Homo sapiens: one gene and its partners. The protein of the gene in region 3 purifies or fractionates together with the protein of the main gene of each other region. This does not show direct contact. Each region holds a gene or a part of one and is shown on either strand. Other genes may lie near its edges.

The links.
Region 1: the proteins of ALX3 (region 3) and XPC purify together in Homo sapiens (affinity purification with mass spectrometry; one large-scale study listed by BioGRID and IntAct). This does not show direct contact.
Region 2: the proteins of ALX3 (region 3) and SUPT16H purify together in Homo sapiens (affinity purification with mass spectrometry; 2 studies listed by BioGRID and IntAct, with this or other methods). This does not show direct contact.
Region 4: the proteins of ALX3 (region 3) and PRKAR2B purify together in Homo sapiens (affinity purification with mass spectrometry; 2 studies listed by BioGRID and IntAct, with this or other methods). This does not show direct contact.
Region 5: the proteins of ALX3 (region 3) and P3H4 purify together in Homo sapiens (affinity purification with mass spectrometry; 2 studies listed by BioGRID and IntAct, with this or other methods). This does not show direct contact.

What each region holds. Positions count from the first base shown.
Region 1 is NC_000003.12:14,162,543-14,168,601, reverse strand, and holds part of XPC (DNA repair protein complementing XP-C cells), read left to right. Parts: intron 1-221; coding exon 222-345; intron 346-1,348; coding exon 1,349-1,433; intron 1,434-3,016; coding exon 3,017-3,174; intron 3,175-3,668; coding exon 3,669-3,789; intron 3,790-6,059. UniProt on the Homo sapiens protein: Involved in global genome nucleotide excision repair (GG-NER) by acting as damage sensing and DNA-binding factor component of the XPC complex. Has only a low DNA repair activity by itself which is stimulated by RAD23B and RAD23A.
Region 2 is NC_000014.9:21,369,603-21,375,661, forward strand, and holds part of SUPT16H (FACT complex subunit SPT16), read right to left. Parts: intron 3,829-6,059; coding exon 3,736-3,828; intron 3,095-3,735; exon of another isoform or gene 2,867-3,094; intron 2,443-2,866; coding exon 2,272-2,442; intron 887-2,271; coding exon 734-886; intron 295-733; coding exon 148-294; intron 1-147. UniProt on the Homo sapiens protein: Component of the FACT complex, a general chromatin factor that acts to reorganize nucleosomes. The FACT complex is involved in multiple processes that require DNA as a template such as mRNA elongation, DNA replication and DNA repair.
Region 3 is NC_000001.11:110,066,262-110,072,943, reverse strand, and holds the start of ALX3 (homeobox protein aristaless-like 3), read left to right. Parts: upstream 1-2,271; 5' UTR 2,272-2,331; coding exon 2,332-2,608; intron 2,609-6,682. UniProt on the Homo sapiens protein: Transcriptional regulator with a possible role in patterning of mesoderm during development.
Region 4 is NC_000007.14:107,154,896-107,160,954, forward strand, and holds part of PRKAR2B (cAMP-dependent protein kinase type II-beta regulatory subunit), read left to right. Parts: intron 1-2,088; coding exon 2,089-2,154; intron 2,155-2,290; coding exon 2,291-2,429; intron 2,430-4,553; coding exon 4,554-4,687; 3' UTR 4,688-6,059. UniProt on the Homo sapiens protein: Regulatory subunit of the cAMP-dependent protein kinases involved in cAMP signaling in cells. Type II regulatory chains mediate membrane association by binding to anchoring proteins, including the MAP2 kinase.
Region 5 is NC_000017.11:41,803,748-41,809,806, forward strand, and holds part of P3H4 (endoplasmic reticulum protein SC65 precursor), read right to left. Parts: coding exon 5,959-6,059; intron 4,258-5,958; coding exon 4,112-4,257; intron 3,133-4,111; coding exon 3,049-3,132; intron 1-3,048. UniProt on the Homo sapiens protein: Part of a complex composed of PLOD1, P3H3 and P3H4 that catalyzes hydroxylation of lysine residues in collagen alpha chains and is required for normal assembly and cross-linking of collagen fibrils.

The DNA of each region.
Region 1 (6,059 bases), on a different chromosome or scaffold from region 3:
GGTTGTGTGGGTTAAATGAGACACACGAATATATAACACTCAGCACACTGCCCGGCACATGGTAGGACTCAGGGCAAGGCATGTCTAGGGGTCTCTGTGGGCTGTCTCCCTCACATTCATGCCTCACTTCCTCCTTCCCAGCAGAACCTTGATTCTGTTCAGTACAGTAGCTATTATTATTGTTATTACTATTACTGATTTTTAAAAATGCTTGTTGATAGAACTTAGTGAGCCTGTGCTGGGTGACGTGAGAGAAAGTACAGCCTTCTCTCGATCTCTTCTGCCTGTGAAGCCAGTGGAGATAGAGATTGAAACGCCAGAGCAGGCGAAGACAAGAGAAAGAAGGTAAGCTTAGGCCCTTGCTTCTAGGCTCCTGTCACATGCAGTAGGCAACAGCTGCTGCTTAGGAGGACTTTGGAGAAACTTGTAGGGGACCAGGACTGAGTATCAAAGTGGTCGAGAACCTTGGGTCAGGAACCTGATTTACCTTTAGAGACTTGAATGAGACACCTTCGTGTCCTGGCTGGGGCTGGTGAGGGATGAGGAGAGGGAACTCCTGTGTGCCAAGGATTGAGCAGGTCATCCGTTATCTTACCTAATCCTTAGAACAGTGTTGTGAATGAGGAGCTAAGTAACGTTCAGACGCTAAGTAACGTTTCAAGAGTCACTCAGCCAGTAATGGAAGAGCTGAGACCTAATCCTTCTCATTGACTTGGCATTCACATTTTCCTCACCATGTCATGCTGCAGGACTTGAGGCAGTGCCCGCCGTGGTAGGGAGCCCCTATCCTTCCCAGCATCCCGGAGTACCTCTGCAGCCTCTGATGGCTTGGGAATTCCAATGTGCGATGGGCACATTACTAGGCACAGAAGAGGGAGATAATACAAATCATTCAAGAAGTGTCAAGTTGTCTTGAAGATTAATGGGATACAGACTGAAAAAGAGATTTTACACTAGAACAGTGTCACATAAATGATGGTGTGTTAATTTAACATTAATAAAGGTAATGGTTGCTAAGGAGAGAGTCAGTAGTCGGAAGAGTTGGACAGCCAGAGAAGACTTCCTGGAAGAAGTGAGCTTTGAGGCATGTAGGTGAGGTGTGATCTGCTGCTGGTTGAGAGGAGGGTTGTCTGGGTACAGAATGTCCCAGGCCGAGGTTTGCTGGTGAGAAGGAGCCAAAGAGCCTGCAGGAAATAGCTGGCTTGCAGACGGACTTGAGTAGCACAGCCTTGTGTAGGGAAACAGGGAGAGTGATTCACTGTCATCCGAGGAGAAGGAATTGCCTGGGGGAGTGGAGTCTGGTTTCAGTTCCCCCCTTCATTCCCAGATTTTTCACTATTTGTTGCAGTGAAAAGATAAAACTGGAGTTTGAGACATATCTTCGGAGGGCGATGAAACGTTTCAATAAAGGGGTCCATGAGGACACACACAAGGTAAGGGCAAGGAATGATGGGGAAGGACTTTTCCTTGTCGGTGCAAAGAGCTTGTGCTCACCGAGGCTTTATTTCTGGCTTTGCTGCTCTGTGGCCATGGCAAGTTTCTTACTCTCTCTGAGCCTTTGCATCCTCATCTGGGAGGTGGGGGTAGTAATAGTGTCTGTCTTGGAGGGTGGTTGTGTATTATAGGTAAGGTAACTTGCAGCACAATGCCTGGCATGCAGCAGAGGCTAAATAAAGAGCACTTGCCTTCCATCTCTCCTTTCAGCCATTTAATGTCATTAATTCTAATCCCAGCTGCAGGCACTGGCTTTTGACTTTAGCTGACAGTTATTGAACACTTGCACACACCTAGCAAGGTGCTTGGCATGGTGGGGATAGAGACTTGGATAAAGCTTATTTCCTACAATTGAGGAGTATCTGATCTCTAGATGGAACAAGGACTTCCAAACAGAGAAACTCAAGGCTATGCCTGGAACAGTGAAAGAGATCAGCGTGGCTCTGTGGAGCTGGGGAAGGCTTTATGTAGGGGAAAGGATTAGAGCCAGGTCTAGGAGAAAAAGTTGAAGACTCTAGCCAAGTTGTGGAGGGGACGGCGAGGTGCCCAGCTCACCTGCGTGTGTGGAGTATGTAGGTGTTGGGGGGTGGGGGTGAAGGGAGGGTGGGCTTTGGTTTCCCTTTGATGGATGGTGGGCTGCCTGAGAGGATAGTGATGGGATGGGTGAGTTGCTTTGTGTGCAGCTACTGCAGAAATCTAGAGGTGCAAGGATGGTGACGAGGTTAGAGAGGGGTCGCCTCCCTCACCCAGGCCTGGGGCACGAAACGAGACAGCTGTGTGCCTTTCACCTCTTGTTGGGTGCTGGAGGTGAAAGAAAGGGAAGATGACTCTCAGGTTTGAGGCCTGAGTGAGGAGAGAGAGGCAGCACTATTGATTAAAATAGGGAGGCTGTTAGTCGGGGGGGAGGAAGCCAATGTTGAAGGGAAAATGACACAAAGCAGTATGTGAAAAGAGGTGAAGAGGTCATATAATCATTTCAGTAGGTGGATGAAGGGTGGGTTTTGGGGTCAGAGGAAGGGCAAAGATGTGGAGCCTGTGACAGAGAAGGTTGGGCTCAAACACCCAGAGAGGTGGCGAGAGCAGCCCAGTGAGCCCAGTGGGGTGCATCCCGCCGGCTTCCACAGGCTTCCAGCAGTCTCTCCAGCTCCACTCCACTTGCCTTTTCTTCTGATCTCGTGGAGCAAACCCCAGACATGGCAGCATTTCATCCAGAAATCTTTCAGTATGTATCTCTGAAAGACAAGACCAAAACAAAAACAGTTTGTATTTTGAAAACAAAGCAATTTGTATTTTGAAGCTTTGAGGTTTGATGATTCCTTTGAAGGAATGAGTATACAGAGAGAAAAAGAGAGGGTCAAAGACAAGCTTGGGAAGTGGCCAATGCTAGTGTTTTTACTTTCTTATATGTAGAAATGGCAACACATATTTCTTGTCCACAGCATGTCTTGACTTTGGCAGCAAAAATTCCTCCTGGTGTCCGGCCTTCCTTCCATGCTGCCCCTTCCTCCTTTCCTCTTCACAGGTTCACCTTCTCTGCCTGCTAGCAAATGGCTTCTATCGAAATAACATCTGCAGCCAGCCAGATCTGCATGCTATTGGCCTGTCCATCATCCCAGCCCGCTTTACCAGAGTGCTGCCTCGAGATGTGGACACCTACTACCTCTCAAACCTGGTGAAGTGGTAAGGCCCTCCGCTTGTCCTGCAGAGCTGGGGAGTGTAGGATTTGTGTTTCTCTCAGAGGCTGGGTTCAGGTCACTTCCACAGACCTTCCCTGAGGCGGTAACTATGTATCAGGTGGTGGGCATGGCATTGAAGATAGAGAAATGCCAGGTATGATCTTGCCCTGGTAGAGCTGCCAGACTGGTGGGGAGACAAATACATACCAGGTAATTACAGGATGGCATGAGGAGTGCCCTGGAAGGGGTGTTCTGGGGACTGCAGGCTCACATAGCAGGGGCGCTTTTCTCAGCTGGGAGGTCTGGGAAGGCTCCCCAAGGAGGTAAAGTCTGAGCTGGGTCTGCAGTGATGATAGGAGTTAGCTAGACGGGCTGGGGAAAGTAGGACAGAGGCAGGCGGGTCTCACGATTCACTCCCTCTTTTTATTTTCTTGGCTGGAAATGAAAATTCCCCTTTGCCCTGACCTCTGACACAAGGAATGCCTGCTTTCTCCCCAGGTTCATTGGAACATTTACAGTTAATGCAGAACTTTCAGCCAGTGAACAAGATAACCTGCAGACTACATTGGAAAGGAGATTTGCTATTTACTCTGCTCGAGATGATGAGGAATTGGTCCATGTAAGTGATCCTCCCGGATCACTGTTTTTTATCAGTACTGTTAACTAATGATAATGGCAGCCATGTGCCAGATGCCATTCCAGGTGTGTTACCGACACTACCTTATTCAGTCCTCATAATGACGTTGATAGCTGCTGAAGCCCAGAATAGCTACATGATGCCTCTAAGGTCTTTTCCTTGGTGAGCCTGAGAATCGAGATTGGGATCAGAGTCTGAGTGGAGGGCCTGTATGCTTTCCTCCCTATCGCCTCTAGTTGTGGTGTACCAAAAAGCCCGTAGTTTTTGGTCAGATGTGCTAGAAATATTTTCATTAATTTTTCCAATTTTGTCTTCAGAAGTCCCAAGGAAATGTTTTTTCAAATTGGATGCTGAAGTCCTTGAGAATGTGTTTTTGTATCTCACATTTGGGTGTTGACACTGGCAGGCAGCAGTGCAGTGAGGAGGGTTCTGTCCATAAAAAGGAATCGTGATGGCAGAGTGCTCCAGGGACAGGCAGGCTTTATCAAATGCCTACAGGCACCTGTAGGTAAGGCTCTGTCTGAATAAAACAAAAACAGAGATGGAAATGTGGTTTTATCCCTAGAAGATTCCTATTAATCCATACAGTTCAATCTGGGAGTCCCAGATTCTCTGGAGAAAAAGATGGTTGACATCTTTAGTTCTCTTCTTCCGTGTTGGCTTTAACAAGTCTAAGATATTTGGCAAGGCTGATAATTATGTTATAATGTGCTGCCAATTTTTTTGTTTGTTTGTTTTTGTTTTTTGAGACAGAGTCTCTCTCTGCCGCCTAGGCTGGAGTGCAGTGGTGCAATCTCAGCTCACTGCAACCTCCACCTCCTGGGTTCAAGTGATTCTCATGCCTCAGCCTCGCGAGTAGCTGGGATTACAGGTGCCCACCACCATGCCTGGCTGATTTTTGTATTTTTAGTAGAGATGGGGTTTCACCCTTCACCCTGTTGGCCAGGCTGGTAACTCATTAATATTTTAGTATTGTCCTCCCAGACTTTGTTCCTGTGTATGTGTGTACGTATGTATTTGTTTTGTTTATTTGTTTAAGCAAAATAGGATCACACAGCTTTTAAAGAGGGGGTACAATTCAGTGACCATTTAGTACATTTACAATGTTGTGCAACTACCACCTCTATTTCCAAAATGTTTTTGTCACCCCCAAGGGAAACCCTGTATATACGCATTAAACTCCTCATTGTTACCCCCCTGTCCCTGCTCGTGGCAACCACCAATCTGTCTTGTGTCTCTGTGGATTTACCTATTTAGGATATTTAGTATAAAAGAAATTATACACTATGTGGCCTTTTCTGCCTGTCTTTTGCTTAGTATAATGTTTTCAAGATTCATCTGCATTTTAGCATGTATCAGTATTTCATTAATATTTATAGCTGAATAATATTCCATTACATGTTTATACATTTTCTCTATCCATTTATCCATTGGCAGACATTTAGTTAGTTTCCACCTTGTGGCTGTTGTGAAGAGTGTTGTTAATAATGTCTATACATATATTTATTTACATACCCTGTTTTCTGTTCTTTTGGGTATATACCTAGGATTGAAATTGCTAGGTCATATGTATATTCTATATGTAATTTTTGGAGAAACCACCAAACTGTTTTCTGCAGTTACTGTACCATTTTACATTGCCACCAGCAATGAACGAGGATTCCAAATCTTTACCAACACTTGGTTATTTTCTGATGTTTTGATTATAGTCATTATGATGGGTGTCAAGTGATACCTCATTGTGGTTTTGATAGCATTTCTCCAATGACATGATGATGAGTGTCTTTTCATGGGCTTCTTGGTCATTTGTGTATCTTTTTTGAGGACATGTCTGTTCAAGTATTTGCCTATTTTTTAATTATGTTGCCTTTTTGTTGATGATTTGTAAGAGCTCCTTGTATATTCTGGATATTAGTTACCTATCAGATACATGCTTTCCACATGGTTTCTCCCATTTTGTAGGTTGCCTTTTTACTTTCTTGATGAAGTCCTTTGATACCCAAAAGTTTTGAATTTTGACAAAGTCCAAGTTACCTATTTTTCTTTTGTTCTTTTTGCTTTTGGTGTCGTATCTAAGATTCCATTGTCAAATCCAAGGTCATAAAGATCGACCCCTGTGTTTTCTTGTAAGAGATTTATAGTTACTGCTCTTACATACGTTGTGAGTTAATATTTGCATATATCAGGTAGGTGTTCAATATCATTCTTATGCATGTGGATATCCATTTGTCCCAGCATTATTTGTTGAAGAG
Region 2 (6,059 bases), on a different chromosome or scaffold from region 3:
ATTTTGAAAGGGAGATGATGTAATTACCACCAACTTAAGTGTCAGTCTTAATTTCAAAGGAAGCTGAAGAACACACCAACAGATTTGCATGGTAGACTTATTACTGCTTCATTAAAACAGTAAAAAGACCCTCTCATCTCCATTTACCTCATCTGCATCAACTATTTCCATGACTCTTTCCTTGAAGAATTTGTTGAAGACTTCAGAAGTGATGCTGGCTGCTTTCTTCATTAGGTTGAGCTCCCCATCCTCCTTTACAGCGATGGTATATGCCACAACTGCACTGATATCTATCTGCAGTCAAAGTGACAAGAGTTTCTAACATGCAAGTACAGAATTACAAAATAAATGCATCTCTCCAATTTGAATATTACCAGTGATATTTCTGTTATTTAGCAAACTATCACTGGTTTGCAGAATATTCAAACATTCTCTTCTTGAACTGAATAAACATTTGAAATAGCTCTTTGCCAGGTCATTGTGTGTACTACAAGAGGTGTTAAGCTAATGTACCACTTAAAATGTAAACTGCCCTCTAGACGTTTTTTGTAAAGGCAGATAGAAGAAAGGCAGGGAAAAAAAATAAAACTGGCACACTGCTCAGCCAAAGGGGATAAAATGTAAACAAACATACAGTTTTCCCAAAACAAACGTCCTGCACTATCTGTTATGGAAGCCCATCACATTTCTGTCTTCTCAACTCTTGATTTGCTATTTCCAGTAGTATTCTTACTTTGTCAAAGCCTTCTTTGTTGAGGCAGTCATTCCAGCTCTTCATGAACTCTCCAGGGAATTTGTCTTTGCTGAACACTCCAATCTTCTTGCCATTCTTGCTTTCTTTAATGGCTTCAATCATTTTGTCAAAGCTACTCTTATTACTTTCATTCTGTCAGTGTCATAGGGAAGAAAAGACACATATGTTTTACCAGTTCATTAGACACGTTTTACCAGTAACAGGTAGAATAATATTCTAAACTACGGAAAAAATTAATTCTCCTCCCATCCCCACCTACTTTTTACTTTTAAAGAGACAGGGTCTTGTTCTACTACCCCCAGGGTAGAGCACAGTGGTGTGATCACAGCTTACTGCAACCTCGAACTCCCAAGTTCAAGCAATCCTCCTGCCTCGGCCTCCCAAGTAGCTGGGACTACAGGTTCATACCACCATGCCTGGATAAATTTTTTTTTTTTTTTGAGACAGACTTGCTCTGTTGCCAGGCTGGAGTGCAGCGGCGCAATCTACACTCACTGCAACCTCAGCCTCCCGGGTTCAAGTGATTCTCATGCCTCAGCCTCCCGAGCAGCTGGGATTACAGGTGTGTGACAACATGCCCGGCTAATTTTTTATATTTTTAGTAGAGATGGGGTTTTGTTATCTTGCCCAGGATGGTCTTGAACTCCAGACCTCAAGTGATCCACTGCACCCAGCCTTCCTGAATAATTTTTGTATTTTTTGTAGAGATGGGGTTTTGTCATGTTGCCCAGGCTCATCTGGAACTCCTGCGCTCAAGTGCTCGCCTCGGCCTCTCAAAGTATTGGGATTACAGCCATGAGCCACCATGCCTGGCCTACCTGTAAGATGCCTTCCCATCTTTAAGGAAGATTGTAATATATCAAAAGTGAGCAAAACATTTCTTTAGATATTTTTATATACTCAGGTGAAAGTGCTGCCGTAAGTTGACCAGACTATTCCTTTTTTTAAGAGAAGGGGTCTCACGTTGCCCAGGCTGGTCTCAAACACCTGGGCTCAAGCAATCCTCCCATCTCAGCCTCCTGAGCAGCTGGGACTACGGGTGTGTGCCACCACGTCTGATACAACTATCCTTTTTCTTCAGAAACAGTTAAGAAACTCAAACACATAAGTGAACAATATTCTGAGAAAACATCCCATGTTAGGTGGGCAGTATGACAAAAAAAATTCACATTTGATAAAAACTGGAAATGATGTATATCTAAGTTTCCTTAAGGATATTTAAGGTTATTTGCTCTAATCAAGGCATACAGATGAAAACAAACTAACAGTGTCCTCAAGAATGGAGACATAAAATCAGTGTTCACCAGAATTTCATAGCTCATTTGTTTTACAGCAGAACTGATAGGATTATTGAATTCTTTTCCTCCTAACAATGAAGACGTGACAGAACTTTGTAATTACAACCACAGCCACCTATAATTTCCCCTGCGCATTCTTTCAAACTCCTATAAGGCATTTCTGTTCATCCCTTTTGAAGATTCTTCCACATTTATGACACATTCTTTATTAATCCTGACCTTTTCTCGTATTAGCAGTGTGATGGCAGGGGCTCCATTAGCATTCTCATTGCCCTTAGTGTTGGCAATCTGTTTCAAGAACTCCACTTTTTTCTTGCTGGCCATAAAGATGATTTTGTCATCACAAAAGACCATGATAGTATCAGTTAGTTCATAACCAAAGAGCCATGTCTATGGAAAAAGACAACAGTGACAACGGTATTTACAGATACAAAAATTAATGGACTCATATAGATATACAGAAATACTTATAGACAAAAATAACATGTCTGAAATTAACTCCAAGGTAATCAGGCTGGGGAGTCTGGAGTGGATACAAATTAAGCAAGATCGGCCAAGAGTCGACAATTTATTAGAACAGGACAATGGGGTTCAATGTATTATTTTCTCTACGTTTATATGCTTGAACTTTCTATAATTAAAACCATCAAATCAGTTAAACGATTTGTGTTTATAGGAAGTATATCAATGTTTAGTGATACAGAAATGCATAAAACAAGGGACAGAGTGATACAGAACCCTGCGTTATTACCTCCTCAATTACCAGTTCCCTACCAATTATTCATTTCTCCTTCTCAAAGAACTGATATTTTACCTTCCTTTCAGGTAAGTATGGTCATTAGGATCAAATTTTGGCCAATAGGTAAAAAATGGTAGTGTGTGGAGCTTCAAGCAAGTCTTCTTAAAAAGAAAAGGTGGCCTCCTGTTTTCTTCTCTGTCTCTTTTTGCTTGGAATGTAGATGAAACACCTGGAGTTCTAGAAGCCATTCTGTACCACGTGCAAGAGGGCTATGTTCTTTGGGTGGCAGAACAGAGAACTGGAAAAAGCCTGGGTCCCTGAAGACTATACATAAGGAAAAGAATATTTTGTTTAACTCACTGTTACTTAGGTTTTTGTGTTATAGCAGCTAAATCCATACTGATATTAATACTTCTTTTTCCTTATGTCTTAAATCACTGCTAAATCCAATTGAACTTTATGTGATGGTGAAAATACCATTTATCTGCTCTGTCCAATATGGGGTAGCCACTGCTGAGTACCAGAAACACAGCTGATGGGACTGAGAAATTGAAATTTTTTAAAGTAAGAGACAGGGTCTCACTGTGTTGCCCAGGCTGGAGTGCAATGGTGCAATCTTGGCTTACTGCAACCTCTACCTCCTGGGGTCATGCCATCCTCCCATCTCAGCCTCCTGAGTAGCTGGGACTACAGGTGCACACCCCCACATCTGCTTAATTTTTTTGTATTTCTTGTAAAGACAGGGTTTTGCCATGTTGTCCAGGCTGGTCTTGAACTCCTGGGCTCAAGCAATCCACCTGCCTCGGCCTCCCAAAGTGCTGGGATTACAGGCATGAGCCACCGCAGCCAGCCAGGAATTTAAGTTTTAATGTGGCTACCATACTGAACAGTGCAGTAGATAATCCAACAACTCTAAGAGCTAAAAATTGCTGTAAATCTCTCACCTGTAAGGCAGTTGATTTGGCATAAACAATTTCTTCATCAACACCCACTGATACAACAATGGCATCAACGTTGGCATACTCATCTTCTCCTTTCTGAAAAGAGTGGGTAATCATCACTTAATTTTTCACACTAGCAAAACAGGAATACAGCCTTCAATATTTATCTAGGACAGGCATAATTTTCTCCTGATAGAAATTTCAAGTTTAAGGTACATGCCTGTTTGGCAGTCTTACGGCTATTCTATTTTTTGTTTTTACAGTACTTGCTAATTGTTGATAAATATCAAGAGAAATTTTTCCTTAGCCCCCAGATCTATGTTTCATAGTTCAGGAACACAGATCAGTGACAAACGTCCTGTGTAATTCAAAGAAATATTTTATTTTTTAAAATTTTATTACTTATTTTTGAGATGGAGTTTGACTCTTGTTGCCCAGGCTGGAATGCAATGGTGCAATCTCGGCTCACTGCAACCTCCGCCTCCTGGGTTCAAGCAATTCTCCTGCCTCAGCCTCCCCAGTAGCTAGGATTACAGGTGCCCACCACCACACCTGGCTAATTTTTTTATTTTCAGTAGAGACAGGGTTTCACTATGTGGGTCAGGCTGGTCTCGAACTCCTAACTTCAGGTGATCCACCTGCTTCGGTCTCCCAAAGTGCTGGAATTACAGGCATAAGCCACCATGCCTGGGCCAAACTAATTTTTTATATTCCAAAATCATCTTGCACTCTCAAAGATAAGCCACCTTCATCTTAGAATCTTTCAAGGAGTCATAATTTATGCAGAAATCTACATATGCCTTCTTTTTTGGTTCAGCCACAGAAATTTTAATAGAGAGATGTAACCCCAGGGCAAAATGAACACTTCAACAACATGAAATCACAGATGCCTGGCCAGAAGGCCACATATCTGAGGTTTCATGAAAGCACTGGAAGCCATGGTAGTTTTTGTCCTTGTAGGTTTTGTCAACCTCAATACCAATGTCCTTTCTGGCTGATGGAGAGACGGGAGTTCTTTATTTTTTAAAAAAGTTTTATTGAGACAGAATTCACATAAAATTCAAAAGCATACAATGTAATGATTTTTAGCAGAATTATGCAACCATCACAATTTTGGAACATTTTAATCTCTATGTCCTTGAGTACAATCATTCCCCAACTCCCCTATCTCCATCTCAGCCCTAGACAAACCACTAACCTGTCTCTATGGATTTGTCTATTCTGGACAATTCATATACATGGAATCAAATAAAATGTGGCCTTTGTGTCTGGCTTCTTTCACTTGTTTTCAAGGCTCATCTGTGTTGTGACACGTATCAACACTTCATTCCCTTTTACTGCTGAATATTTCATTGTGTAGATATACCACATTTTATCTATCCATTCATCAGCTGCAGGACACTTGGGTTTTCACTTTCTGGCTATTGTAAAAAATGTTGCCATGAACATTTGAATATGTTTTGTATGGACATTTCTCTTGGGTATACATATACCTAGGAGATGAACTGCTGGGTCATATGGTAACTTTTCGAGGAATCATCAGACTGTTTGTCACCATGACTGCACTAGTCACTATTTCACATTCCTAAGAATGTATCAAGGTTCCAATTTTTCCACGTTAACCAACAGTTTTTATGTCGTTTTGATGACAGCCATATAATGAGTGTAAATTAGTATCCTGCTTTTTTTTTTCTTTTGAGACAGAGTCTCGCTCTATCACCCAGGCTGGAGTGCAGTGGTGCAAACTTGGCTCACTGCAACCTCCGCCTCCTAGGTTCAAGCGATTCTTGTGCCTCAGCCTCCCAAGTAGCGGGACTTCAGGTATGCACCACCACGCCCAGCTAATTTTTATATTTCTTAGTAGAGACGAGGTTTCACCATGTTGGCCAGGCTGGTCTTGAACTCCTGACCTCAAGTGATCCGCCCCCACTTGGCCTCCTGAAGTGCTGGGATTACAGGCATGAGCCACCACGCCCGGCCCTCACTGTAGTTTTGATTTCATTTCTCTGATAGCTAATGACGCTGAGCATCATTTCATATGTTTACTGACAACTGTATGCCTCTTGGAGAAATGCCTGTTCAGATCCTCTGCCATTTTGTAGCTGAGTTGTTGCTTTATTATTGAGCTGTAAGAGTTTTCATATTCTAGACACAGGATCTGCAGACATTTTCTCCCATTCTGTGCATTTTATTTTCACTTTCTTGATAGTGTCCTTTGAAGCACCAAAGTTTCTAATTTTGAAGTGGTACAATTTATCTATTTTCTTTTTTATTTTGGAGACAGAGTCTCACTCTATCCCCCAGGCTGGAGTGCAGTGGCACGATCT
Region 3 (6,682 bases):
CCCAGGAAGGTCAACTCCACTTACCCACAAAACTCTCATGTAATCTAGGGTTTTCTCTCTCCTCAGTTTAATTGGTAACACCATCCCAGTATGGAAATTGGCTCTGTTCAGAGAGTGGGAGAATGTCAAGAGAAATTTCTGGGCTTGAAAGTGGATGCAGGTCCCTGTGTCTCTCTGCTCAGCTCCAGCCTTAGGCCCATTCACTCTGAAGTCAGGAGCCTTTCACCTATTCAGTGATGGAACCCACTGGAGATGGTAATCACCATCATCATCAGCATCTATTAAATTAACACAGTGCATCAAAACACGAATGCTTTGCAAATACCCTACTTCCATGTGTGGCCCACCTTTCTGATGAGGAAACTGAGGCTCAGCAAGGTTGTCATGGGAGGCAGAAGACTCAGCCTTTGATCCAGGCTGCCTTGTTTAAATTGTTGGTGACATTTTCCTGGGTGATATTTTCATCCTCCATAGTAAACTTCTTGATAACTGTTGAATAGAATAGGTATCCTAAATTGATGTCCTCCTAGAAAGTCAACAATATCCAATTTCGCAGGTATGGGGAAGAGAGAAAAGAAAACAATATCCAATCAACAACTATTGAAAAACCTTATTAATGGGCAAAGGTGATCGGTTCAAATTGGTTGCCCAGAGCTGGATCCACTAGATCCTGGAGAAAGGATCCCTCTGGTGAGGCCAGAAGGGAAGCTTAATTTCAAGCCGAGCCTCCCTCTTGACTAGAAATACCAGCCCCAGGTGCTCCCATCTCTCTGGCCAGTCTGCATTCCGTGATTAGGGGCCCTAATGGCCATAATGCCTCCAAGGTGGTGTTGAAACCAATAAGTCTTCAGAGAAGTTATGGTATGTTTAATAACGGCTTAATGACTCCTTGTGAGATGCAAGGCTTCTGGTTCCTGTTTGGTCTTGATTTACAGCCCAACTCTGGCTGAGGAGCCAAGAAACCCCTTCTAAGCCCCCAGCGGAAGAGGGAGGTGTTCACACCAGGCCTCTTGGATTCCTTTAAAAATTGAGAATTCAAATGAAATACAAATGATGTTTGACTCCCCACCTCTCTTGCTAGTCTCCGGGGGCATTGATAATAAAAACAGTTTAACGCAGCCCCACGGGCTCCTCAATCCATGGGAAGTGAGCAGGGTCCTCGGGTCCTTGGGTATTTCTCCCCAGATCTTAGGTAGGGTGGTGGTTATTTCTCTTTTCTGAAATTCTAAGCTACTGCTCTAATCCTGTCTCCTTTTGGTTGGGGAGACTCAGCTCTTAGAAGATGCAGTTCTACCCTCATCCCTTCTGAATCGTCAGGCCTGGGGGAGCACAGCCCTGAGGTCCGAGCTGCAGACAGTCTCTCCAGTGGGTCCCCAGACACTTGGGTCATCTGCCCACTGAAACGCATTCACTCCAAGCTGCTGCCAGAGGAAACACCAGCCCTTCTGCTCATCCTCCACCTGTTCCAAAGGCTGCCCCTGCAGGACACTGTTCAGTCCTGAGCTGCCCATGGGAGTCTCCCTGTCTGCTCTGGCCCTGTCTCTACTTCTGAAACACACCTCAAATACATAGAAAGACCCAGGGTTGGCTTGGCCCGACCTCCACAGTCAGATGAGGACACTAATGATTGGCGCAAGGAACCATAGCTAATTAATGATAGTGTCCAGGTCCAAGCTCCCCAGCACCCCATTCCCAGCTTAGATCTGCTTCCACACAACACTCCCAATAGCTCCTTTCACTGTGAGAAACAAGAGATCTCTAAGGGAGGTGTTTTTTGCTGAGGCAACATTTTGTCCAGCTCCTAGCGGAGACCTAAGTAAAACTGCAGCCTAAGGCCTGCCTGTCTGCCCGCCCAGGCCCTCATCCCAGGCTGATGTCCAGAGTCCAGGCCCAAAAGTGTTTGGGGGGGATGCCCACACGGCCTCACCCCTCTAGGGGCAAGTGCCTCTAGGCTGGATATCAGGACCACGGGTGCTGCTCTGAGCAAGAGACTCACCTGGATGGGTAGACAAAGGGATCCTGCCCTAGAGAGGAAGCTGCTTCATCCTCTCCTGAGCTGCCTGGGACTGGGCTCTGGGTGAATGGGGGGAGGGGGTTCCCGGGCTCCGAGGGGTTAACCCGCACGGGGCCACACGTGACGTGGATGGTTCCAGCATTAAGTCAGAGGCGCGGCCCCCTCCCCTGCCCCCCGCCCCCCGCCCCCCGCGGCGCGCGCCGCTCCCGGGGGCTCCGCGCCCCCGCGCCCAGGTCCCTCCCCCTTGGCGGGCGCTCACAGGCGGCGCGGGCAGCGCGAGCCCCGGAGCCCCGGAGGCCTGTGCGCCCTGAGCCGGCATGGACCCCGAGCACTGCGCGCCTTTCCGCGTGGGGCCTGCACCCGGCCCCTATGTGGCCTCGGGGGACGAGCCTCCGGGCCCGCAGGGAACCCCCGCCGCTGCGCCTCACCTGCACCCCGCGCCGCCCCGCGGCCCGCGGCTGACCCGCTTTCCGGCCTGCGGGCCCCTGGAGCCCTACCTCCCAGAGCCGGCCAAGCCGCCCGCCAAGTACCTGCAGGACCTCGGGCCCGGCCCGGCCCTCAACGGCGGCCACTTCTACGAGGGCCCCGCGGAAGGTAACGCGCGGCGCGGGGCGTAGCGCGCAGCCCGACCCTCTCTTCTTCTTCCTTACCCGGGCCCACCCGGGCCTTCCTGCTTATCTCTCCCGCTCGCCTATTTCTCAACTTTTTGCCCCTCTCGCCTTTCGCCACGGCTTCCACGGAAGCCGGGTTGGCGCTGGCCCGGGCCAGGCAAAGGCCAGTGTGGGGCGGGAGGGTGAACCACCGTTCCTCGGCGGCGGGAATGGAAGGCGGGAGGTCGAGGGAAGGTGCAGTGGCGACGGCCCGGAGTCCAGTCGGGGCCCGAAAGCAGTTGGACCTGGGAAGGAGAGAGCATGCTCTGCCGAAGTTGGACTGGAACTGCCACCTACCCTGAAGCCCAGACCCGGCCGAGGGCTGTGGAGCCACACTGAGACCTGACGAAGAAGCGCGGCTTTTGTGTCTGGCGCCCTTTGAGGGCCCTGAGGCTGGGCCTCAACCTAGAGTGGTCAAATCGGGGTCGGCTGGGGACTGCGGCCTGGTCTTGGCCCGTCTCTCCTCCCCGGGCCTAGCCTTCACAGGAAGGGTGCTGCCTGTGCGGCAGACTGGCACAGTCTGGCCGCGACTGGTCGTGCAATGCCAGGGCTGTCCTCAAGACGGAATAACTGTATTCTTATTTCTCATACTAAGCTGGCCTCCCTGCCGTTATGCACTATGATAGCCGCCCTTCTGGCAGTCTTGGCTTCCCCGCGCTGGATCATCACCGCTGGGCAGTCAGGAGCAGCCCTGGGCAGCCTAACCCCCTGGCGCCGCGGGCTCACGGGCCGGTGCCCTGTGCTAAGGCCGGCTGGACCGCGCCGGCATCCGAGAATGCGCCTGAAGGCAGGGGCCTGGCAGGCTGATCGGCAGCTCTGCGGCCGTCCGCCGCACCCTATGACCTGTAAGGCGTCTCGGCTTCCGCACTGCACCCACCTTATCTGCGCTGCCATATCCCGCAGCCTAGGCCCAGAACTGGATCCTCCAAGATCCGCCTCAACCCCCTGCCGCCGCCCGGCTGGCGCCTCGCGGGCCTCCACGGAGTGGCCGGGCATCTCCGGCTTTCGCCCAGCCGGGGCGGTGGGAATGTGTAGGGGAGGGCGGGGAGGTGTGTGTGGGTCAACGGAGGAAATGAACGAGTCCGCGGAGCTTCGTGTCTGTGCCCTTTGAAAGAGGCTTTCCTGATAAAAACCACAGTTGGGACTTAATGAGAAGCAGTTGGCCTGGCTCCTCTGATCCCAGCCAGACGGCAGAGGCCGCGCAGTGCGGTGAGCACCGCCAGAGACAGGTACCCGGCCTGGCTCAGCGCTCCGCGTCGGGCAGGAGCCACCCCCCCAGGCCCGCGTCCCTGCTAGGCGCGCCGCATCCGGCACCGACAGCTCGGGCCCCCGGACCACACCGGTGCCGCGCGAACTGCAGAGAGCGCTGGTGCGGAACGAGCGGCCGGGAGAAACCCAGCACCCCGGGATCCGACGGCAAGGGTGGCCTTGACAACGAAATACCGAGAAAGAAAACCAAAGAAAGCGAGCGACAACCAAGAAAAGGGGAAGGGAAATTGAACAAAACAACGGAGAGCGCGGCGAGAACGAGAGGGTAAATGGCAGTCGGCGAGCTGGGATGAACTAAAATGAATAAATGAGGAACGAACGAATAAAAAAAGCAGGAGCAAGATCGAACGAAACGGATAACTAGAGAAGGGGGAAAGGACAAAGAGGGAGGGAGCAGACTAAACAAAAGAAAACGGAGCATGTTTAAAGCGTAGAATATATCAAAATGAGAACAAGGGGGTAAGAAAATTAACGATTTCAGTTGAACGGAGGACAGGCCAAACGAAAGGGAGGCAGGCGGGTGCGAGCAGAGCCTGGTAGAGATCCTGGCGGCCGCTAGCCTCTGGCGCTCTTGCCGGTGTTCAACGGGCTGCCAGCGTCCCTGCGGCAGAGCGGACCTCGGCGCAGCGCGGCGCGCGGTGGAGCCTGGCTGCTTGAGGACAGTCAGCCCCCAGGGCCGCACAGCCTACTTGGTGGGAAGTGGCGGGCGAAGAGGGAACCCGCCTTATTTCCCGGTTTTTAAAATAACCGGCTCGGAGCGTTTCCAGTCCACACGAGTGAGCGCGCAGCTGCGCCCCATCTGCGGCGCGATCTTTCACGAGGCTGGGCAGTTGCGCGCCCCAGAGCCTGGCGCACCTCGCTCTTCTCCCGCCTGCAGTCCGCCGCCCGCGCAGCCCCAGGCCGCCCTTTGCTGAGAGCGCCCAGCCTTGCTCTGAACCCAGGCTGCGTGCTGGCGCTGCCAGCCACTCTCGCGCCGTCCGCGCTTGGCTAGTCTGTCCCGAGTTTGGCTCTGACGTCGAAACACGCCCTCGGCAAGAGACTCCTACTAGAGTTTTGCCCGCTGCCGCTGAGGCCCTGAGCCGGATGACCCGGCCGATCGCCAAAGTCGAGGAGAGTCCCAAGTTCTTAGACCCGGGCTGAGGCTTCTGGGCCAACGCTGAGAACCCCCAAGAAGGGCACCGAGGCCTCACCGGGGTCCTGCCCACGGCGTTTATGTCCACTCTGGCTTTGAGTCTTCGGCGGGAGCTGCAGGAGCCTGGGCCTCAGCGAGTTCTGCAGGTCGCTTAGTGACCCCACAGTGGCCGGAGGAAACAGTGCGGCGCGGGACAAGGCTGCAGCGAAATGTGAAAGCCAAGGCTGGTCCCGCGGTCTCAATGGATGCCTTCTGTGGGGACAGTGGAGCACTCGGGCCTGCTGCGGCGCTGCTTCCTGGCTGCACAGTGGCTTAGAAGCAGCCGCTGGTAGGGGCTCTGGCACTCCTCCGGGTGAGGGGTGCTCAGGGTACGGCAGGCCTGAGAGCTGGGTCAGGGACAGAGAGCTCCTTTACTACGTTAAAAGGCTCCTGGCTTTCACGCCCAACAGCTGCTGCTGTGGCCCTGCGGTTATGCAGGCAGAAGACACCCCAGCGTTGTCTCAGGCTGTCTCCAACATGAGTACCCCGCCTTAACCACCTAGTGTCCGGATCAGGTGCAGTGACTCCTCTGCACAATCCATACACACCTCAGATGTGCCCCGTGCTCAGCAGAGCAGCCCTCACTCCTTTACAAGCTTAGGTTCAAGCTGCTGGCTGCTATTCCTGGCCTGTCTTTCCTGGCTTCTGCCTTCCATTTGTCCCAGTTCTATCCCTTTCCTCTTCTGGGCCTTGCTCCTCAGGAGGCTGCTCTGTGTTCTCTGAGGAGTGCCCCTCTCCCAAAGTGGAGGGATGCCACCCTCCCTCTGGTGTTCTCCAGGTAGATCAAGGAGGTTTCAGGGCAATGACAATGAGGAGAGCAGTTCCGTGGTCCCTTGAGAGGGCTGTAGACTGGGCAGGCATGGGAGTTGGGCATAGGTCAGCAGGCTTAGCCTCTTCTTTGGGGAAGCTGCTCTGAGAAGTCCTACTGCACTTTCATCCCTTGTCCCTGGCAGCTTGGTGGCTCAAGGTCGGGAACGCAAGTCTCAGGGCCCCAGATCTGGTCCCTTCTTCTGGGCAGGTCCTATTGAGACCCAAGAGGCAGATGAGCAAGCCCCAGGGCTTTGGAGGGCCTCTGCCAGGATGTCAGTACTCTTGAACCCCAGCCCTGACCCTCAGCCCTGAGCTACCCTCACCCCTTTTCTGCCTGGAGTCCAGCACAGCCTCCCTACAAACACAAGACACCAAGACTCTTTCTTCTCAGGCTGAACATTTCCATGGCCTGCTGTGTGTATGCATGTGGTGGGGGTGGCGGGGGCGGGGGGGGGGGATGTCCCATTCCAGTGTCCCTAGTCTTCCTATCATTTTCAATTATTTGGTTCAACTTCTGTGAGTCTTCCTTCCTAAGCTTCTATCAAATGGAACTGCCTCTAAACCTGAAATGTGCTGGCCCAAGAATGGAAGTCAGAGACTGGAACACTTTCTCCCCTGTGCTCCACCTGAGTTGTGAAGGAGCCCTGGTCCCTGGGCTGTAGCTGTGGGCTACCTGTGTACAGGCCTGTGTACAGGCTGGGCATGGTCCAAGGCTAGGTAGCCCTGCTCGACTCTCCCAGTCCTCCAGGACACACACCAGGAGCTTAT
Region 4 (6,059 bases), on a different chromosome or scaffold from region 3:
AGTAGGCTAGCATGTCAGAGTTTGGTCCTCAGTTGACTGTAGTGAAAATGTCAAGGCCCACATCTGCTGCTTCCGGCTCCATCTGGATGCTTTCTGCTCTTTGCAAGTTGATGGCTTATCTTGGGTCACCACACCAATGCTTGCGATGTTAGGATGACGCAGGGTGCATGTCTCGGCACTTCCTCAGGAGCACAGGATCCGCAGACATGTTTCTGCCAACTAAGGGGACGCTGCTGGCATACACAGCAGTGTTGCCATTTCCAACTATGTATGCTGTTATCTAGGCTGAAATTTGGGTGAAATTCTTACCCCAGTGTTGCCACATTTTCTTGGTTTTTTAGCAGAAATACAGTGGTAGAGAATATATTATTTCAAGGCCAGGCACAGTGGCTCACGCCTGTAATCCCAGCACTTTGGGAGGCTGAGGCAGGTAGATCACTTCAAGGTCAGGAGTTCGAGACCAGCCTGGCCAACATGGTGAAACCCCATCTCTAATAAAAATACAAAAAAATAAATAAATACGGGTTCTAGATCCCTGAGGAATTGCTACACTGTCCTCCAAAATGGTTGAACCAATCTACATTCCCACCAACAGTGCAAAAGCATTCCTATTTCTCCACAACCTCACCAGCATCTATCGTTGCTTGACTTTTTAATAATTGCCATTCTGACTGGCGTGAGATGGTTTCTCATTATGGTTTTGATTTGCATTTCTCTAATGATCAGTAATGATCTTTTTTTCATTTTTTTTTTGGCTGCATAAATATCTTCTTTTGATTCTTTTGAGAAGTGTCCGTTCATATCCTTTGCCCACTTTTTAATGGCAGAAATACCATTTGACCCAGAAAACCCATTACTGGGTATATACCCAAAGGAATATAAATCATTCTGCTATAAAGACACATGCACACATATGTTTATTGCAGCACTATTTACAATAACAAAGACATGGAACCAACCCAAATGCCCATCAGTGATAGACTGGATAAAGAAAACGTGGTACATATATACCATGGAGTACTATGCAGCCATAAAAAAGAATGAGATAATGTCCTTTGCAGGACATGGATGAAGCTGGAAGCCATCATTCTCAGCAGACTAACACAGGAGTAGAAAACTAAACACCGAATGTTCTCACTCATAAGTGGGAGTTGAACAATAAGAACACATGGACACAGGGAGGGGAACATCACACACCGGGGCCTGTCAGGGGGTGGGGAGTGAAGGTAGGGAGAGTATTAGGACAGATACCTAATGCATGCGGGGCTTAAAACCAGACAGGTTGATAGGTATAGCAAACCTCCATGGCACATGTATACCTGTGTAACAAACCTGCATGTTCTCCACATGTATCCCTGATTTAAAGTAAAATTTTAAAAAAAGGAAAAAAAAATTAGCTGGGTGTGGTAGCACATGCCTGTAATCCCAGCTACTTGGGAGGGTGAGGTGGGAGAGTCGCCTGAATCCAGGAGGTGGAGGCTGCAGTGAGCTGAGATTGCACCACTGCACTCCAGCCTGGGTGACAGAGCGAGACTCCATCTTGGGGGGGAAAAAGAAAGTATTATTTCAAATAATTTTACAAATGAAATCATTACTACATAATTGTCCATCAAAACCTCTTCATTTAGGGCCGGGCTCGGTGGCTCACGCCTGTAATCCCAGCACTTTGGGAGGCCGACGCAGGCAGATCTCGAGGTCAGGAGATCAAGACCATCCTGGCTAACACGTTGAAACCCCGTCTCTACTAAAAATACAAATAAATTAGCCGGGCGTGGTGGCAGACGCCTGTAGTCCCAGCCACCCAGGAGGCTGAGGCAGGAGAATGGTGTGAACCCGGGAGGTGGAGCTTGTAGTGAGCCGAGATCGCGCCACTGCATTCCAGTCTGGGCAACAGAGTGAGACTCCGTCTCAAAAAAAAAAAAAACCTCTTGATTTAGAAACCGAGACAGCTTGTTCCCTTAGGATTTCACTTTTCAGGTGAATATGTGTACTTTGGGGTTGGATCAATTTTAGGGATATGAAAGGTAACAAGATTGTTGTCAATTAATTTGCATTTTCACCGTCTGTTTTTGTTATTGATTCCAATAGGGAGATTCGGCTGATTCTTTTTTCATTGTAGAATCTGGAGAAGTGAAAATTACTATGAAAAGAAAGGTAAGCATTCTAAGTCCTCAGAACCCACATACTGTTAGCAAGGAACACAACAGATCTACTTTTTGATGTTTAGACTGAGGTTAATTTTATTTTTCATAAGCTGAGGAAAAGCTCATCTTTTTAATTGCCTTGTCAGGGTAAATCAGAAGTGGAAGAGAATGGTGCAGTAGAAATCGCTCGATGCTCGCGGGGACAGTACTTTGGAGAGCTTGCCCTGGTAACTAACAAACCTCGAGCAGCTTCTGCCCACGCCATTGGGACTGTCAAATGTTTAGGTAGGGATTGCAACAGTGGGCGTGCTTCTGCTGGTTGAACTTATGTCTGCATTTTATGTATTCATGTTGAGTGAATCATTTTATTGGGTTCACAGGTTTTGTGGTCCCCACAAAAGGTAACAAGATTAGGACTCATTGCCTTATAAAATCAATTTGTGGAAGCCATTTTTTCTTCGAAATTTTTACATCCAGATACATTTTGCTCTTCTTGTGTATATATGAAATAACATCCCATATTAGTCATTAAAATAAGAGTTCCAAGTACCACGTTTTATATGGAATCTCTCAAATAAGCAACATGTGCTATGTTCCTCAAAAGAGAAGGCTAAAGTACTATTTTTATAAAGTCCGTTATTAAGATCTGCGGGGAATGCTGAGATGTTGTGAGAATCCTTACTCATTACAGTATTGGGACACAAAGGTTCAGGTTTGTCAAAGCACAGTCAAATGTTCTTTGCTGTTCAGTTGTTATTACTATTTTACCAGAGTAGCTTGGCAGAAATGTCATCTTCAGGTGCAGGCATCTGTATATATCTGAGATTATATATCTGAGAAATCACTTACTTTGATAAGAAAATACAGTTTAGAAGGTGGCAATATGGAGGGTATTTTAAGAAAATTGATCTCACAGTTATTACCCTCTCTGTGCTTTTCATCCATAATTCAATAGCATAAACTTAATGTTTTTAAGATTTGCAAGGATCCTTAGAATTAACTTCTTAGAGAAGTCATTCTTTAAAAGGGTTTAAATAAGTATAATATTAATCAAGTGTTAAATTTGGATGGAAGAGAAGACGATTAGAAACTGGCAGGTAATTTCCCTAAGTAGGGCTATTAGAAAGAGTAAAGGTGAGTGAGTGAAAGTCTATTAGAAATAGTAAAGGTGAGTGAGTGAAAGTCTATTACAGTAAAGGTGAGTGAGTGAAAGTCTATTAGAAAGAGTAAAGGTGAGTGAGTGAAAGTCTGTTAATTTTTTTTCAATAATAGATTATTATACTCACATCAAAGAAAACCTGAGAAATACAGAAAATGTAGAAAAAACATAACACCGCCACTCAGTGATTTCTGCTATTATAATTCCTTCTTGTCCTTTTTATTTGTGTGGGCTTCCAGTTGTTAAACAGTTTTCCAAACAACTTTTAAAGTTCATTATCGCTTAGGAATGTTCTTATTTTATTACACCAAATTTTAAAATTCTTTTAGGTAAATATATACACGATAAATTAATCATTCCTTAGTGGTAAATACTTCGAAGGTTTTGGCTCCAACTTTTTTGTGGGGAGCAATTTTTTGTGCATAGAAGACTTTTCTGTATTATAGGAGTTTTCCTTAGAAATGGTTTTCAGGAGTGGGTTTTTAAAAAATTAACTTTTGACACATATTGCCAGATTACTTGTATTTGTACACTACTAGCAGTGCCATAATGCCCATTCACCCTATTCTTGTAAACATTGCCTTTTTTATCTTTTTATCTTTAGTGTAAAAGGCAAAGAAGATCTATTTTAATTTGTACTTTTATGTATAGAGTATGATCATATTTTCTATTTATATATTATAAATCCAGTTTTAAAATCCAGGAGACAGGCAAGCAAAGTGATTTCTAGCATGTACTTATAGAAGTAAACAAAAGCATTATGTCAGCTGCCATTTTTGGATTGCATAGACATAGTATGGCAGCAAAACTTACAAAAGGTTAACACTTGGCCTTCACAACATGGCATTTTAAACCCTGAGAAGGGAACACAGGATAGAAAACACTCTTGTGCCACCCTTGAGGAGTTCACATTGCTAAGGTGGAGACAGCACATTTATTTTTTAAAATTCTAAGGTCTTTCCATGATAGTCCCTCATTCTTTTCTCAGCTTGGACCAGGAACCTCCCACCAACTTAGCATTGCTCATCATATTGCCGAGGGACTGCAGAGTGTGGTCCAAGAGCGTGGCCCTGGCTGCTTCCTTTTTCAAGTGGAACATTTTTATCATTATGCTTTTTCTTGTATTTTATAGTATTTACCTAAAATATCATTGCACTATTGATATATATGGAGTCGGTATTGTAAATGACTTAGAAATTCTGCAGATTTGCAAAGAATGTTATTTAAAAAAAAATCTTCTCTTTTCTCAGCAATGGATGTGCAAGCATTTGAAAGGCTTCTGGGACCTTGCATGGAAATTATGAAAAGGAACATCGCTACCTATGAAGAACAGTTAGTTGCCCTGTTTGGAACGAACATGGATATTGTTGAACCCACTGCATGAAGCAAAAGTATGGAGCAAGACCTGTAGTGACAAAATTACACAGTAGTGGTTAGTCCACTGAGAATGTGTTTGTGTAGATGCCAAGCATTTTCTGTGATTTCAGGTTTTTTCCTTTTTTTACATTTACAACGTATCAATAAACAGTAGTGATTTAATAGTCAATAGGCTTTAACATCACTTTCTAAAGAGTAGTTCATAAAAAAATCAACATACTGATAAAATGACTTTGTACTCCACAAAATTATGACTGAAAGGTTTATTAAAATGATTGTAATATATAGAAAGTATCTGTGTTTAAGAAGATAATTAAAGGATGTTATCATAGGCTATATGTGTTTTACTTATTCAGACTGATAATCATATTAGTGACTATCCCCATGTAAGAGGGCACTTGGCAATTAAACATGCTACACAGCATGGCATCACTTTTTTTTATAACTCATTAAACACAGTAAAATTTTAATCATTTTTGTTTTAAAGTTTTCTAGCTTGATAAGTTATGTGCTGGCCTTGGCCTATTGGTGAAATGGTATAAAATATCATATGCAGTTTTAAAACTTTTTATATTTTTGCAATAAAGTACATTTTGACTTTGTTGGCATAATGTCAGTAACATACATATTCCAGTGGTTTTATGGACAGGCAATTTAGTCATTATGATAATAAGGAAAACAGTGTTTTAGATGAGAGATCATTAATGCATTTTTCCCTCATCAAGCATATATCTGCTTTTTTTTATTTTGCAATTCTCTGTATTCTATGTCTTTAAAAATTTGATCTTGACATTTAATGTCACAAAGTTTTGTTTTTTTAAAAAGTGATTTAAACTTAAGATCCGACATTTTTTGTATTCTTTAAGATTTTACACCTAAAAAATCTCTCCTATCCCAAAAATAATGTGGGATCCTTATCAGCATGCCCACAGTTTATTTCTTTGTTCTTCACTAGGCCTGCATAATACAGTCCTATGTAGACATCTGTTCCCTTGGGTTTCCGTTCTTTCTTAGGATGGTTGCCAACCCACAATCTCATTGATCAGCAGCCAATATGGGTTTGTTTGGTTTTTTTAATTCTTAAAAACATCCTCTAGAGGAATAGAAACAAATTTTTATGAGCATAACCCTATATAAAGACAAAATGAATTTCTGACCTTACCATATATACCATTAGGCCTTGCCATTGCTTTAATGTAGACTCATAGTTGAAATTAGTGCAGAAAGAACTCAGATGTACTAGATTTTCATTGTTCATTGATATGCTCAGTATGCTGCCACATAAGATGAATTTAATTATATTCAACCAAAGCAATATACTCTTACATGATTTCTAGGCCCCATGACCCAGTGTCTAGAGACATTAATTCTAACCAGTT
Region 5 (6,059 bases), on a different chromosome or scaffold from region 3:
CCTGCCAGGAACTACTGCTGTCCCCTGTGCCTGCGTAGCCCGCACTAATCCCTCCAAAGCCAGGCATCAGTTCCAGGCTGAGCCCTTGCTGGTGACTCTGGCTGGGCTGGAGACCTCCCCTGGTGCCGTGTGCTGCCCTCTCCAGCAGCAGTTTGTGCTTCCCCCACTAGACTGTGAGCGGCACGTGAAAGGGACCATGACTTCCTTTTTTTTTTTTTTTTTTGAGACGGAGTCTGCTCTGTTGCCCAGGCTGGAGTGCAGTGGCATGATCTCGGCTCACTGCAAGCTCTGCCTCCTGGGTTCACGCCATTCTCCTGCCTCAGCCTCCCCAGCAGCTGGGAATATAGGCGCATGCCGCCACTCCTGGCTAATTTTTTGCATTTTTAGTAGAGACCGGGTTTCACCGTGTTAGCCAGGATGGTCTCAATCTTCTGACCTCGTGATCCGCCCGCCTTGGCCTCCCAAAGTGCTGGGATTACAGGTGTGAGCCACCGTGCCCCGCCAGGACCATGACTTTCACTAACTTACTCCAGCCCCTAGTCTGGTGTCTGGCAAACCACAGGAAATAAGAGACAGCCGTCAAAATGGCTGCCATACGCCAGGCGTGGTGGCTCACACCTGTAATCCCAGCACTTTGGGAGGCTGAGGTCGGTGGATCATTTGAGGTCAGGAGTTCAAGACCAGCCTGGTCAACATGGTGAAACCCCATGTCTCTACTAAAAATACAAAAATTAGCTGGGTATGGTGGCACACGCCTGTAATCCCAGCTACTCAGGAGGCTGAGGCAGGAGAATCGCTTGAACCTGGGAGGCGGAAGTTGCAATGAGCTGAGACTGCACCACTGCACTCCAGCCTGGATGACAGAGTGAGACTCGGCTGTCATTCACTGTGCACCTACCAGGTACTGGCTCTTTATCAAGTGCTTTACATACTTGATCTCAGCCAGGAGCGGTGGCTCACGCCTGTAAACCTAGCACTTTGGGAGGCCGAGGCAAGCGGACCACTTGAGGTCAGGAGTTTGAGACCAGCCTGGCCAACGTGGTGAAACCCTGTCTCTACTACAAATACAAAATAAAATTGGCTGGACATGGTGGCGCATGACTGTAATCCCAGCTACTCGGAGGCTGAGACAGGAGGATCTCTTCAACCCAAGAGGTGGAGGTTGCAGTGAGCAGAGATCGCACCACTGCACTCCAGCCTGGGTGACAGAGTGAGATTCTGTCTCCAAGAAAAAAAAAAGAAAAATGCATACTTGAGGCCGGGTGTGGTGGCTCACACCTGTAATCCCAGCACTCTGGGAGGCCGAGGTGGGTGGATCACAAGGTCAGGAGATCGAGACCATACGGGGTAACATAGTGAAACCCCATCTCTACTAAATATACAAAAAAAATTAGCCGGGCGTGGTGGCAGGCGCCTGTGGTCCCAGCTACTTGGGAGGCTGAGGTAGGAGAATGGCGTGAGAACCTGGGAGGCGGAGCTTGCAGTGAGCTGAGATCACGCCACTGCACTCCAGCATGGGCGACAGAGCGAGACTCTGTCTCAAAAACAAACAAACAAAAAAACATACTTGATCTCACTTAATTCTTTCTCTTTTTTCGAGACAGAGTCTCAATCTGTCACCCAGGCTGGAGTACAGTGGCGCGATCTCGGCTCACTGCAACCTCTGCCTCTGGTTCAAGCCATTCTCCTGCCTCAGCCTCCCCAGTAGCTGGGATTACAGGTGCCCACCACCACACCTGAGTAATTTTTGTATTTTTAATAGAGACAGGGTTTCACTATGTTGGCCAGGCTCGTCTTGAACTCCTGATCTCAGGTGATCCCTCTGCCTCGGCCTCCCAAATTGCTGGGATTACAGGCATGAGCTACCATACCCGGCCAGATCTTGTGTTATTCTCACCACAACAATGTGAGATGGGCATGATTCTCCCCATTCAATGGATGAAGAAACAGAAGCTTGAGAGGTTGCCTGACACTTGTTTGGAGGCCACCCAACTGGTAAGTAATGGAGCCAGGTCTGGCTAGTTCCTCATCCTGGGTGCTGACGGTGTAGATTCTGCCCTCCTCCTCTGGGGTTGGATGGGTGGGGGCGTGGGGGCATGAACAAAGGAGAGGATACATAAATGAGCACTGAGCAGCAACACCTCAGAGAAATTAAGGCTGTCAAACCCTCACTTGAAATCAATGTTAATAGGGCCGGGTGCGGCTGCTCACGCCTGTAATCCCAGCACTTTGGGAGACCGAGGCAGATAGATCATGAGGTCACGAGGTCGAGACCAGCCTGACCAACACGGTGAAACACTGTCTCTACTAAAAATACAAAAATTAGCCAGGCGTGGTGGTGCACGCCTGTAATCCCAGCTACTCCGGAGGCTGAGGCAGGAGCATCGTGTGAACCCGGGAGGCAGAGGTTTCAGTGAGCTGAGATGACACCACTGCACTCCAGCCTGGGCGGCAGAGCGAGACTCCATCTCAAAAAAAAAAAATAAATAAATAAATAAAATAAATCAATGTAATACAATACGGTCCTTCTGTCCTGAGGTCCTGCATTCATTCATTCACTGGTTCATTCAAACTCAGTTTCTGAGCCCAGGCTCTGTGCAGGATGTGGGAGAACAGGGAATAATGTGGCCCTGTGTCCTGCAGTGCGGTTCTCCTGGATACTGGCTGGAGAAGGGGCCCAGGGCTGAGATGGACGAGGGCTGCAATCACCCAGGTCCAGGCCACAGGTGGCCAGGGAGGCACACAGGTCAGAGTGGGCACTGCTAGCCCAGAACAAAGAGCCAGGGCATGCAGCAAGGGCTTCCTGGAGGAGGCACCATGTGAGCTGGGCCTGGGAGGAACAGGATTGAGACATGTACAAAAGGAGGACATGAGAATACTAAGGCTGGGGAAGGAACGGACAGTCTAGACAAGGAACAGGCAAACCTCTCTTCTTCACGACAGCTGACCACCAGGGGCTGGGGCTGAATTCTGGCACACTGGTGGCCCCAGGAAAAGGTCCAAGGTGTCCCCATCACAGCCCAATCCTGGAAAGCAGGAGGCACTCACCTCATCATCTGACTGCAGGTACATGTGGGTGAACTCCAGCAGCTCCCGCAGCTCGGCGGTCTGGTTGTGGTAGAGCATGGCCTCCTGGAAGGAGGGAAGGACGGGGTGGGGGGTGAGCCATACCCTGTTGCCAGATGGCAAGAAGCCAGGGCTCCTAGGATCTGGGCCCACTGGCCCTCTTCTAGCTCAAGGATCAGAGAATAGGTATCAGCTCACAAGCTCATCAGATCATCGTGGCTGCTTGGAACACTGGGTTAAGGATTCTGAGAGTTTGGTGACAAAGAGTCCCTCAATCGATTAGCAATGTCTGCCACTGACAAGGAAGGCAGGAGTGGCACCATGTGCCCCATATTTGCCAGCCTGGCCCTCAACTCCAACAGATTTCCTCCATTGGTTACCTAGGGTGTTCCTGGGAAAGAGGGACAAAGGTCAGCAGTGAGGGTAATGAAGGTAGGGAGGGGAGCAGGTAGGAGTGGATGTGTACCTTCATACCTCCCTCGTCTGGACACTGCTGGTGAGGTGGCAGTATCACTGCCATTTTGCAGGTGAGGCAATAGATTAGGAAAGGGCCATGGTCTTCCCAGGACCACACAGCAGTGGGGCTGGGCTCTGAAGCCAGGACTCTAACCTCAACTCATATTCTTTCTTTCCATTTCCCATCCTGCCTTCCATGGAAGCCAGGAGTTTATTTTTTATTATTTATTTATTTATTTTTCTTTTGAGACGGAGTCTCGCTCTGTCACCCAGACTGGAGTGCAGTGGCGCGATCTCCGCTCACTGCAAGCTCTGCCTCCCAGGTTCACGCCATTCTCCTGCCTCAGCTTCCCGAGTAGTTGGTACTACAGGCGTCCACCACCATGCCTGGCTAATTTTTTTTTCTTTTCAGTAGAGACGGGGTTTCACCGTGTTAGCCAGGATGGTCCTGATCTCCTGACCTCGTGATCCACCCGCCTCAGCCTCCCAAAGTGCTGGGATTACAGGCATGAGCCACCGCGCCCGGCCGCCAGGAGTTCATTTTTTACAAAGTGCATATCCAGCAAGTGCCCCAGAAAGCAGTGCCCACCTCCCGGGGCTGGAAGTCCTCCTCTTCCAGGCCCCAGCGAGCCCGGTGGAACCGGTAATACACCAGGTTCTGCTGCATGACGCTGTCCTTGGGGTCGAAGAGCATGTAGCTGGCGGCGCTGCGGGCAGCCTGGCGCACATCATTCACTGCAGCAGGACAGGGGTGAGGAATTGCTCTGGCACTTCCCCTTCAGAGTCAACTCCATCTTCCAGTTCAGTCCAGCACCCCTGCTACCCAGCCACCTCCCAGAATACCTAATGGGCTCCTTATCCCACCCAAGCATAATGCCAGCTAGCATGTAGTGGGCACTTACCCTATGCCAGGCCCTGACTAACTCATCTAAGCCTCACTGTTATTGTCTTTTTATTGTTTTTGAAACAGGGTCTCACTCTATCACCCTGGCTAGAGTGCAGTGGTGCAATTATGGTCACCTCAAGCTTGATCTCCCAGGCTTAGGTGATCCTCTCACCTCAGCCTCCTGAGTAGCTGGGATTACAAGCAGGCACCACCACACCCATCTAATTTTTTGTATGTTTTTGTTTGTTTTGAGACAGGGTCTTGTTCTGTCACCCAGGTTGGAGTGCAGTGGTGTGATCTCGGCTCACTACAGCCTCTGCCTCCTGGGCTCAAGCAATCCTCCCACCTCAGTCTCCCCAGTAGCTGGGACTACAGGCACGCGCCACCATGCCTGGCTAACTTTTTGTATTTTTTGTAGACACGGGGTCTTGTCATGTTGCCCAGGTTGGTCTCGAACTCCTGGGCTCAAGCCATCTGCCTGCCTGGGCCTCCCAAAGTGCTGGGATTACAAGTGTGAACCACTGTGCCCAGCCATGCCTACCTATTACTGTCATCCCCATTTTACAGTCAAGAAATCTGAGTCACAGAGAGGTTAGATAAATTGCTCAAGCTCACACAGCTGGAGAATGATGGCTCTAGTGAATTAGAGGCCCTTAGCCTCTCTGCTATGTGTACCCAGGAAGGGTCTCCTGGCCCCTGGGTTCTCAGCCCCTCTGCTCTGACTCCTGGCTCTGTCTGAATCTTGGCATCTCCGAGCTGCAGGAACACTGGAGGCTGTCCATTCCAGCCCCAGTGGATGCCAGGATCTCTCCAGTGAGGAGAGCCACAAGTCCTGGTGCCACTTTTTATTAGTCATAAGACCAACAGCCCCTTGCCCTATAAGCCTCAGTTTCCCCATCTGAAAAATCGGTCCAGTAATGCCAGCTGCATGGTGTTGGTGAAAGGACCACATAAGATAAAGTGACTTATAAACTCTCAAGTGTTGGCCGGTCATGGTGGCTCATGCCTATAATCCCAGCACTTTGGGAGGCTGAGGCAGTGGATCACCTGAGGTCAGGAGTTCAAGACCAGCCTGGCCAACATGGTGAAACCCCGTCTCTACTAAAAATACAAAAACTAGCTGGGTGTGGTGGCAGGCACCTATAATCCCAGCTACTCAGGAGGCTAAGAGAATCACTTGAATCCGGGAGGCAGCGGTTGCAGTGAGCCGAGATCGTGCCCCTGCACTCTAGCCTGGGCAAGAGTGAAACTCCGTTTCAAAAATAAAAATAAACTGTCAAGTGCTCTGCAGTTGTTGGTTGTCTAGTCATTTGCCCAAAAGACCCTCTTCTTCTCCCTGAGGCTGCTGTCTGTTCTCACTCAGAAGCCTCTCACCTGCCCCAGACTCCCAGGGTGCCTTCCCCATATTCCCACCACCCCTAGACTTTCCTCCTATCACCCAGGGTCCTCAATACTGAAGGAAAGCTCCCCACAACTCTGGGAGGCTCCCATACAGTCCTCTCCCTTATCACCTCGTCCCCTGCCCAAGCCAGCCCACCCAGGGGGCTCACACTTATAGTAGGCAAACTGCAGGTAGTGGTACATGGTGGCCACGAACTTGTCCACGAAGTAGCCACCCACATTGGGGGTCAAATTGGCCTCACAGTCCACC